Linked DNA regions of Homo sapiens: region 2 is linked to region 1. The links come from fine-mapping of genetic effects on gene expression. A gene starts in region 1. The other region holds a variant in brackets. All regions are shown on one strand. Distances are between the middles of the regions. Region 1 holds the start of RIT1 (Ras like without CAAX 1). Region 2 overlaps ARHGEF2 (Rho/Rac guanine nucleotide exchange factor 2).

What was found. PIP is the estimated chance that this variant, and not a neighbour inherited with it, causes the effect.
Region 2: its variant is the best candidate, but not a certain one, in a credible set for the expression of RIT1 in iPS cells (iPSCORE, PIP 0.54).

What each region holds. Positions count from the first base shown.
Region 1 is chr1:155,908,611-155,913,610 of GRCh38, reverse strand. RIT1 (Ras like without CAAX 1) reads left to right here and starts at 2,262. Exons shown (of 6, transcript NM_006912.6): 1 at 2,262-2,368; 2 at 2,807-2,955; 3 at 3,105-3,161. The coding sequence starts at 2,850. It overlaps KHDC4 (KH domain containing 4, pre-mRNA splicing factor), which reads left to right. Exons shown (of 14, transcript NM_014949.4): 14 at 1-566.
Region 2 is chr1:155,951,134-155,956,653 of GRCh38, reverse strand. It overlaps ARHGEF2 (Rho/Rac guanine nucleotide exchange factor 2), which reads left to right. Exons shown (of 22, transcript NM_001162383.2): 14 at 1,685-1,752; 15 at 3,826-4,026; 16 at 4,419-4,538; 17 at 4,668-4,735; 18 at 4,878-4,913; 19 at 5,121-5,171; 20 at 5,382-5,520. It overlaps MIR6738 (microRNA 6738), which reads left to right and starts at 5,318; the gene lies at 5,318-5,381. The variant G/AAG (reference allele first, on the strand shown) is at 2,372.

The sequences.
Region 1 (5,000 bases):
TGTTTTGGAAAATGCTGTCTCATTTAAAACTGTTGGATATAGCTGGATCCTGGATAGGAAAATGAAATTATTTTTTCATTGTGTTTTTTAATTGGGGTGATCCAAAGCTGGCACCTTCAGGCACATTGGTCTCATAGCCATTACTGTTTTTATTGCCCTTCTAAGATCCTGTCTTCAGCTGGGTCAGAGAAAACTTCTTGACTAAAACTGGTCAGAACTCATCACAGAAATGAAATACAGTGGTCTCTCTCTCCCAGAACTGGTTGCAGCTAAAACAGAGAGATCTGACTGCTGGCTATAGGATTTTGGACTTAATGACTGAAATTGCAAATTGTCCTTTTTCTTGGCATTACAGATTTTGCCAAAATAACTTTTTGTATCAAATATTGATGTGTGAAAGTGAAGGAGCTAGTCTGCTGAACCAGGAATAGTTTGAGATATTGAACTGTCATTTTTGCACATTTGAATACTTTGCAGGCTGGCTTTGTATAAACTTATCCTCTGGTTTCCTATATGTTGTAAATATTTAGACCATAATTTCATTATAAATAAATCTATAAATATTCTGCTTGTGGTTTCTCTGTTTTCTTCCACAACCCATCCATACACTGAAATTCATAAACTTTTTTACTCATAGCACAATGCAACTATAACATTACCAGAAAAATACATATACAGACCCCAAGGTTTGCATATAGTTCCCAGAGTTATGTAACTGCAAAATGTACCCTTAAAGTTCAAATGAAAAGGTTAAGGATTATTATGCTGGATATTTTCCATTTTCATATTTTAGCCCTCCTTTATTTAACAGCGTATTAAAAGGACTTCATGAATGAAGCGGGTTTTAAAGGAAATATGTTATTCTTGGAAAGACATTTTATTTTTTTTTGAGATGGAGTCTCGCTCTGTCACCCAGGCTGGAGTGGAATGGTGCAATCCTGGCTCACCGCAACCTCCTGGGTTCAAGTGGTTCTCCAGCCTCAGCCTCCTGAGTAGCTGGGATTATAGGCACCTACCACCATGCCCAACTAATTTTTATATTTTTAGTAGAGACAGGGAGTCACCATTTTGGCCAGGCTGGTCTTGAACTCCTGATCCTCAAGTGATCAGCCCACTTCAGCCTCCCAAAGTCCTGGGATTACAGGCGTGAGCCAGCACTCCTGGCCAGAAAGACTTAAATTTTGAGACGGAGTTTTGCTCTGTTGCCAGGCTGGAGTGCAGTGGCACCCTCTCAGCCAGCTAACTGCAACCTCCACCTCCCAGGTTCAAGTGATTCTCCTGCCTCAGCCTCCCGAGTAGCTGGGACTTATAGGCGCATGCCACCACACCCAGCTAATTCTTTTGTATTTTTAGTAGAGACGGTTTTACATGTTGGCCAGGATGGTCTCTTATTTCTTGACCTCATGACTCACCTGCCTCGGCCTCCCAGAGTGCTGGGATTACAGGTGTGAGCCACCGCGCCCGCCCGGCCCAGAAAGACATTTAAAAAGAACAGTGGTAGGCAGAGCTGCATGAGAACAATTTTCGTGTCAGTTTCTTCTAGCACCTGTGCTACGTAAATAGAGGGGAATATGGTTATAGTGGCTGCGCTTCAGTTCTGTATTTAACTCAAGGCCTCTGTTAACTCAGAGCTCTCTTTCCTGCCAGAGTGTGGTACATTTATTTAAAACAAGTTTTTGTGTGTCTTATACGTGTTTAAAATACATACAGAACTCTGATTAGGGAGTGTTGTGAACATCTGGTTTCTGAGAATGAATTTAGGTTTCAATAGCAAAAGTCATTGTGGCCGCTCCTTTAGGAAAGTCATTTTTCTCCTATGAGTAGTCATCCCCGGTAGACTTGACTGAAATCCTGTGTTTTAGGAGGATTTGGGGGGTGCCCCTGTCCTCCCTTCCTCTCATTACATTGGGTCAAATTAGTTTTGGGTTTTTTTTTTTCCCACAAGCAGCAAACAACCCTCGGTAAGTTGTTAATTTAAGTGTCCCTGCATGTCTCTTATCACGTACTCCCTTCCCTTTTGTGTAAATAATTTACTTTCTACTCGTGATTAAATACCCTTGTCTGTGAGTGCATACACCCTAGGTTGGGTAGGTGACCAGAGGACCTTCAGCGGTGGGTCCCGGAACTGGGTTTTAGGGACCTGGGAGGGGCGGGAAGAGGGCGGGGCAGGCTGTGGGCGTCACTGAGTGGCCCCGCCCCTCCTTCCGCGACTCGGGCGCCGGTGGCGCCATCTTACTCGGTTGCGGGAGGGGTCACAGGTCAGTGCCGGAGCCTCCGCGAGTGAAGGAAGACGAAGTGCGTGACCCGACCGGCTGTGGTGTTCCAGTCCCCACTGACCAGTAGGAGCAGCAGGGCGTCGGCTTGTGAGGTAGAGGGGTGGGGAGTCTGGCGGCGGAGCAGCAGCTGGGGGTGGGGAGGGGGTTCGGAGGAGAATGGGGAGGGGGCGGAACCTCTGGGTACCGCAGACGTGAGAGAACCCCTGCGGCCTAAGGGGCCGCATCCCTTTCTTCCCAAAACTTTCTCCTTGTCCCTACTGTGCCGAGACGTAAATTTATTTGTATCTTTTTATTTTTCTCTTTGGAAAAAGTAAAACCTGTGATGTGTCATGTGACTGAACTGTCTAGGAGGGAGGGTGAAGATGGGGGGGTTTCTTAGGGCCACCCGAAAGGGTGCAGTGGTGAGCAAGAGGGACAGGCCAGAGTAAGAGGGACAGGCCAGAATATGTATGGAAAGGTAAGGCACTGGCTTGAGGGCTGTCGCCGTGGTGTCTCCATCCTGGATTAAGCATTTCCTCCTCCTTTTCTAGGTGGCTTTTCCTCGGGGCAACCGAGGAAGGCCCCAAGAGGACAATGGATTCTGGAACTCGCCCAGTTGGTAGCTGCTGTAGCAGCCCCGCTGGGCTCTCACGGGAGTACAAACTAGTGATGCTGGGTGCTGGTGGTGTAGGGAAGAGTGGTAGGTAACATTTTCCATTTGACAGGAAGCATGGATGAAAAGTACTTAAATGACCAGATGGGATACTTGCTATCTTGCAATGTTAATACTTAAAATTCTCTCTGTGGGTCACCTTTGTGAGGATTTGACTTTTATTTCTTCTTTTGAAGCCATGACCATGCAGTTCATCAGCCACCGATTCCCAGAAGATCATGATCCCACCATTGGTAAGCCAGATCATCACTTATGTTTCCAAATATACCCCATAAAAATATCTTAATGAATATCAGTAGTTTCTAACTATTTATATTTTGAGGCTTTTTTGGAGTCTAATTCAGATTTATTTAGAAACAAGGGTATCAGCAGTTGGTAAGCAACTGAATATTTCTTTTTTTTTCAGACTTTATGTCATAAGCCATCTTTAGTCTTTGTCTCTTACTGAACATTAATGGGACAACTCTCTTTGTTGTATTTTTTTATGGTTGTATACAGGCCACTTAACGAAGCCTTTTCTTGCTGTCACTTCTCTAAGGGTATGACTTGAGACTCGCTCTGTAACTGTGAGTCAGCTGGTTTGAACTTCCACAAAAGGAAGCAGAGAAACAAGTAGAGCCAGGCTGCTGAACTCTTACAACCCAGACATGCCAAGCCTGGACATCTTGCACTTGGAGCTCTTGGTTTACTTCCTTATACCTTAAGTTCATTACGTAGTAATGTCTTCTCCCATGTCTGTCTGTTGTTTTTTTTTTTTTTTTGAGATGGAGTCTCGCACTGTCTCCCAGGCTGGAGGGCAATGGTGCGATCTCCGGTCACTGTAACCTCCGCCTCCCGGGTTCAAGCAATTCTCCTGCCTCAGCCTCCTGAGTAGCTGGGATTACAGGCATCTGCCACCACACCCGGCTAATTTTTGTATTTTTAGTAGAGATGGGATTTCACTATGTTGGCCAGGCTGGTCTCAAACTCCTGACCTCAAGTAATCCATCCACCTCAGCCTCGAAAAGTACTGGGATTACAGGCGTGAGCCACTGTGCCTAGCCCTCCGATGTCTTTTATGGTCCTTAACTCTTGTTGCAGAACGCTAATAGAGTAAAAAAGTCATTTTGTTTGCTTTGACTTTTTTATTTTTTAATTGCTAATCTCTACAAAGACTAAGAACATTACTGTCATTCCTAAACCATAAGGAAGCAGGTTTGATTCTAAGGGTTTATATCCTAATATGAAAGAAAAATGGATGTGGGAATGGGAGAGGGCACAGAAAGTCAGCTGTACTGTTATTTTCTTTTTTTGTTTTTTTTTTTGGAGACGGTGTCTCACCCTGTTGCCCGGGCTGGAGTGCGGTGGCACAATCTCGGCTCACTACAAGCTCCACCTCCCAGGTTCATGCCATTCTCCTGCCTCAGCCTCCCGAGTATCTGGGACTACAGGCGCCCGCCACCAAGCCCGGCTAATTTTTTTTTGTATTTTTAGTAGAGATGGGATTTCACCGTGTTAGCCAGGATGGTCTCAATCTCCTGACCTCGTGATCTGCCCACCTCGGACTCCCAAAGTGCTGGGATTACAGGCGTGACCACTGCGCCGGGCCTTATTATTTTCAGTATGTGACACTCTTTGCCATGATCCTAGTTCTCTAGGAAGGATTTCCATTGGGTCAGGCCTCTGCTGCTCTGTTTCCCGCAAAGCCAATAATGTTTTGTGGTGGCCCAGCTTTGATATGGTCATTTCATAGAGCACATGATTCCAGGGATGGGAAAAATAGAAAAAGTCTTGACTTTTTCATGTACTATATCAAATTTAGAACACTGTTCAGAGATTCAGGCCAGGCGCGGTGGCTCATGCCTGTAATCCCAGCACTTTGAGAGGTCGAGGCGGGTGGAGCACCTGAGGTCAGGAGTTCGAGACCAGCCTGGCCAACATGGTGAAACCCCATCTCTACTAAAAATACCAAAACTAGCCGGGCGTGGTGCTGGGTGCCTGTAATCCCAGCTACTGCGGGGGCTGAGGCAGGAGAATTGCTTGAACCTGGGAGGCGGAGGTTGCAGTGAGCCGAGATAGTGCCATCACACTCC
Region 2 (5,520 bases), 43 kb before region 1:
GACGGGGTTTTGCCATGTTGACCAAGCTGGTCTCGAACTCCTGATCTCAGATTTATCCGCCCACCTCAGCCTCCAAAAGAGCTGAGATTACAGGCATTAGCCACCATGCCCAGCCAAGATTTTTATAATTTTTCTTTAGCTTTCAGGGAATCAGTTCTCAACTTTATAATTTGTAAACCTTTTTTTTTTTTTAACTTCTGCACCATGGAATTTTGAAAAGGTTTTTAGAAATGCATATAAAAGTATGAAATTGCAGGCCAGGCACAGTGGCTCACGCCTGTAATCCCGGCACTTTGAGAGGCTGAGGCGGGTAGATCACTTGAGGTCAGGAGTTCAAGACCAGCCCGGCCAATATGGTGAAACCTCGTCTCTACTAAAAATACAAAAATTAGCCGGGCGTGGTGGCATAAGCTTGTAATCCCAGTTACGCGGGAAGCTGAGGCAGGAGAATCGCTTGAACCCGGGGGTGGAGGTTGCAGTGAGTCAGGATTGTGCCACTGCACTCCAGCCTAGGTGACAGAGTGAGACTCCATCTCCAAAAAAAAATTATGAAATTGCCTATTCCAAGAAAGCAGTTCAAAATAACCTGTCCTGTTGACAGATCTGTAGTGGCTTCTTTATTAATAGTATTAATATTTATAATTGTGGCCAGGCGCTGTGGCTCACACCTGGAATCCCAGCACTTTGGGAGGCTGAGACAGGCGGACCACTGGAGTTCGAGACCAGCCTGGCCAACATGGCGAAACCCTGTCTCTACTAAAAATATAAAACTTAGCCAGGCATGGTGGTGCGTGCCTGTAGTCCCAGCTGCTTGGGAGACTGAGGCAGGAGAATCACCTGAACCTGGGAGGCAGAGGTTGCAGTGAGCCAAGATCCTGTCACTGGACTCCAGCCTGGGCGAAAGTGCAAGACTCTCTCTCAAAAAAAAAATTATAATTGTGGAAATTAATAATATTAATTGTAATTGATTTGTTGAGCTTCTGTTATGTTCAAAGCACTTTAACATTTCATTTAATCCTAATGAAAAACCTATGAGGAAGATATTACCTTCATTTTTCAAATGAGGAAATAGAGAGGTTACCACCTGGTAAACAGTGGAGCCAGGATTTGCATCCTGTTTGCTTGATGCCAAAGCCTGTACTTGACCCTCTGCACTGTGCTGCCTTTCCAAGCGACCTTTGGAGAGATATATCTCAGTAAACGCAGATAATCAGTGCTAAGAAATGGGAGAAGGTCGGCCGGGCGCGGTGGCTCATGCCTGTAATCCCAGCACTTTGGGAGGCGGAGGATCACCTGAGGTCAGGAGTTTGAGACCAGCCTGGCCAACGTGACGAAACCCCATGTCTACTAAAAATACAAAAATTAGCCAGGCATGGTGGTGCGTGCCTGTAATCCTAGCTACTCAGGAGGCTGAGACAAGTGAATCACTTGAACCCAGGAGGAGGTTGTAGTGAGCTGAGATAGCGCCCTTGCACTCCAGCCTGGGTGACAGAGTAAGACTCCGTCTCAAAAAAAAAAGAAAGAAAAGGGAGAAGGTCAGGACTAAATTAAAGCTAGGGTGTGAGGCTGAGGAGTCTTATCAGAAGATGGAAGCATAAGGCATGTTTGGGAAGGAGGGAAGGCTGATTCTGGTCTATAACCTAGCTTCTGTCTCTCAATGGCATGCGACCTGTTACCCCTCCAGATGCCCATCCAGGGAGGACTTCCCCCTGATTGAGACAGAGGATGAGGCTTACCTGCGGCGAATTAAGAGTAAGTCCACCCACAAGGAGCTCCTTAGTAATTTATAATACATTCACACAATGGAATATTATGCAACTGTTAAAAAGATGAGATGGCTCTATGAGGGCTGGTGTAGATCCACAACTGAAACATATTAAGTGAAAAAAGCAAGGTTTAAAACAATGTAAAGTGTATACTACCATGTGTGTAAAAATAATATGGAAGACCAAGGTTGGGTGAGTAACTTACTTTTTCACTGTAAGGCCTTATATTAGTTAGGGTATGATTTAACTGCTATACTAAAAGACCACAAAAATCTTCTTCCTTAAAAAAGGAAGTAGATTGGCCGGGCGCGGTGGCTCACGCCTGTAATCCCAGCACTTTGGGAGGCCGAGGTGGGCGGATCACGAGGTCAGGAGATTGAGACCATCCTGGCTAACACGGTGAAACCCCGTCTCTACTAAAAAATACAAAAAAAAAATTAGTCGGGGGTGGTGGCGGGTGCCTGTAGTCCCAGCTACTCAGGAGAGTGAGGTAGGAGAATGGCATGAACCTGGGAGGCGGAGCTTGCAGTGAGCTGAGATCACGCCACTGCACTCCAGCCTGGGCAACAGAGGGAGACTCCATCTCAAAAAAAAAAAAAAAAAAA[G/AAG]AAGTAGATTGGCTGGATGCAGTGGCTCACGCCTTTAATCCCAGAAGGATTTGGGAGACAGGAGGATCTCTTGAGGTCAGGAGTTCGAGACCAGTCTGGGCAACAAAACATACATAGCAAGACCCTGTCTCTACAAAAAATTAAAAAAAAAAAAATAGCTAGGCATGATGGTACACACCTGTAGTCCTGGCTACTCGGGAGGCTGAGGTGGGCGGATTGTTTGAGCCCAGGAGTTCAAGGCTGTAATACACTATAATTGCACCACTGCACTCCAGTCTGGGTAACAACAACAACAAAAAAAACCCCAACAAGGTAGAATATTATTGCTGTCAACATAACAGTTCAAAGTGGGAAGTGCAGAGTAGTGGTGCAGCTCTGCCATCTTTAACATGAAGTTTTCATCTCTATGTCATGTCTGAAGTGGCTACTCCAGCTCCCACTGTCACACCTGTATCACACCTAGCAAGGAGGAGTAAAGGAATAGAGTTTATACCCTTTTTTCTTTTTCTTTCTTTCTTTTTTTTTTTTTTTTTTTTGAGACAGGGTCTTGCTCTGTCGCCCAGGGTGGAGTGCAGTGGCGTGGCGTGATCTCGACTCACTGCAACCTCCATCTCCCACGTTCAAGTGATTCTCCTGCCTCAGCCTCCCAAGGAGCTGGGATTACAGGCATCCACCACCACTCCTGGCTAATTTTTGTATTTTTAGTAGAGATAGGGTTTCACCATGTTGGCCAGGCTGGTCTCGAACTCCTGGCCTCAAGTGATCCACCTGCCATGCCCAGCCTATACCCATTTCTTTTAAGAGCAGATCTGGAAGATGCTCATATCCATTGGCCAGAATGTAGTCATGTAGCAATATAGTCACGTGCAAGTCAGGCTGGAAAACATAGTTGTTAACTGGGCAGCCATGTGTGCCCAGATGAAACTTCTATGCATTTTCTCATTAAAGGAAGATGGAAAGAATGAACACTGTTGGACAACCTGCAACCCCTTCCACAAATCTTTTTTTTTTTTTTTTGAGACAGAGTCTTGCTGTGTCGCCCAGGCTGGAGTGCAGTGGTGTGATCTCGGCCTCACTGCAACCTCTGCCTCCTGGGTTCAAGCGATTCTTGTGCCTCAGCCTCCTGAGTAGCTGGGACTACAGGCGCGTGCCACCACACCTGGCTAATTTTTGTATTTTAAGTAGAGACAGGGTTTTGCCATGTTAGCCAGGCTGGTCTTGAACTCCTGGCCTCAAGCGATCCACCTGCCTTGGCCTCCCAAAGTGCTGGGATTACAGGTGTGAGCCACTACACCTGACCAACAGAAAGCTTTTTCTTTTTTATAAATGCCAAAATAACAAAATTAAGTCTGCCACACTGCCCCACCCTACCCCTCTCCCCTAGGGCTGTCCTCTACTGGCGCTCTTGCATACCCCTACGTCCTCTCATGTCCTCACTTGTTCCTTATCTGCAGTGGAGTTGCAGCAGAAGGACCGGGCACTGGTGGAGCTGCTGCGAGAGAAGGTCGGGCTGTTTGCTGAGATGACCCATTTCCAGGCCGAAGAGGATGGTGGCAGTGGGATGGCCCTGCCCACCCTGCCCAGGGGCCTTTTCCGCTCTGAGTCCCTTGAGTCCCCTCGTGGCGAGCGGCTGCTGCAGGATGCCATCCGTGAGGGTGAGGGAGCTCCCAGGGAAGAGTCCAGGCTCAAGCACTCACCGTCACAGAATGTGGACATGTGACTAGACATGGACAAACACAGACAAGTGGGATGCCAACCCTATAAACCATAAACGGCCCTGAGTGCCTCTTCTGGGCCAGTTCCTGGGAAAGGCAGGGGAGGAGGTGTGGTCCTTGCTGCTGCTCCATATCGTCCATGCTGCATGGACTCTGCTGCCTCGTAGGCATTTACTGCCCTTTACCTCATCAGTGGTTGTGTGAGTGAAACCCCACTGCCAGTGCAGGGGGCATTCCCCCAGATGCCCAAGTGTCCCACATGTGGGGGTGAATGGCATTCCCCTCAGGGTCCTGTGTCATTCCTGTTCTCACCTCTTCCTCTTTCCCCACAGTGGAGGGTCTGAAAGACCTGCTGGTGGGGCCAGGAGTGGAACTGCTCTTGACACCCCGAGAGCCAGCCCTGCCCTTGGAACCAGACAGCGGTGGTAACACGAGTCCTGGGGTCACTGCCAGTGAGTACCAGGGCAGGGGACCAAGGTAGTAGGTGGGAGGGGCCAAAGTTAGTAGAGTGGTACCAGGGATCAAGTGGTATCAGGGCCCCAGGGAAGTGAGCTCAGCCATCCTTTTCTCCTTCTCAACAGATGGTGAGGCCAGAACCTTCAATGGCTCCATTGAACTCTGCAGAGCTGACTCAGACTCTAGCCAGAGGGTAGGTCCTCAAGAGGTTCTGGGACTTGGCAAGAGGGTGGGAGAGGGACAGCCAGCCTCTGGATCCTCAACACAAAGCTGTCAGGGGCAGGCACCCAGGATTTGTGTGCCTGCTGACTCCCCATTCTTGCCCATTTCTGCAGGATCGAAATGGAAATCAGCTGAGATCACCGCAAGAGGTGAGATGGGAATTGATGGTATAGGAGACTGAAGGGAGGATGTTCTTAGTCTGAGTAGTTAGAGCCCAGTTTGGAGTGGGGTGGGGAAAGCGTCTACATTCAAGTATGTCTCCGGATCCTACTGTCCCCACACCCACCCTTGTTCAACTTTTGGGCAGTTCTCCCATCCTAAAGCTGGGGCCCTGTTCCCACCCTGTCTGTCCTCAGGAGGCGTTACAGCGATTGGTCAATCTCTATGGACTTCTACATGGCCTACAGGTCAGTAGGACAAGGGCTTGAATGGGGAAGGGGAGGAGCCAGGCTAGAGATGCCTGTTTAGGTGGGGCATGGTCATCCCAACAGGCCTTTCTAAATACCCTCCCAATCCAAGCTCTCCAGGAGCGATGATCTGGGCCTTGGAGGGTGAAGGCGAGGGGTAGAAGAGCACAGGGGTTCTGATAAACCCTTCTGCCTGCATTCTACTCCCAGGCAGCTGTGGCCCAGCAGGACACTCTGATGGAAGCCCGGTTCCCTGAGGGCCCTGAGCGGCGGGAGAAGCTGTGCCGAGCCAACTCTCGGGATGGGGAGGCTGGCAGGGCTGGGGCTGCCCCTGTGGCCCCTGAAAAGC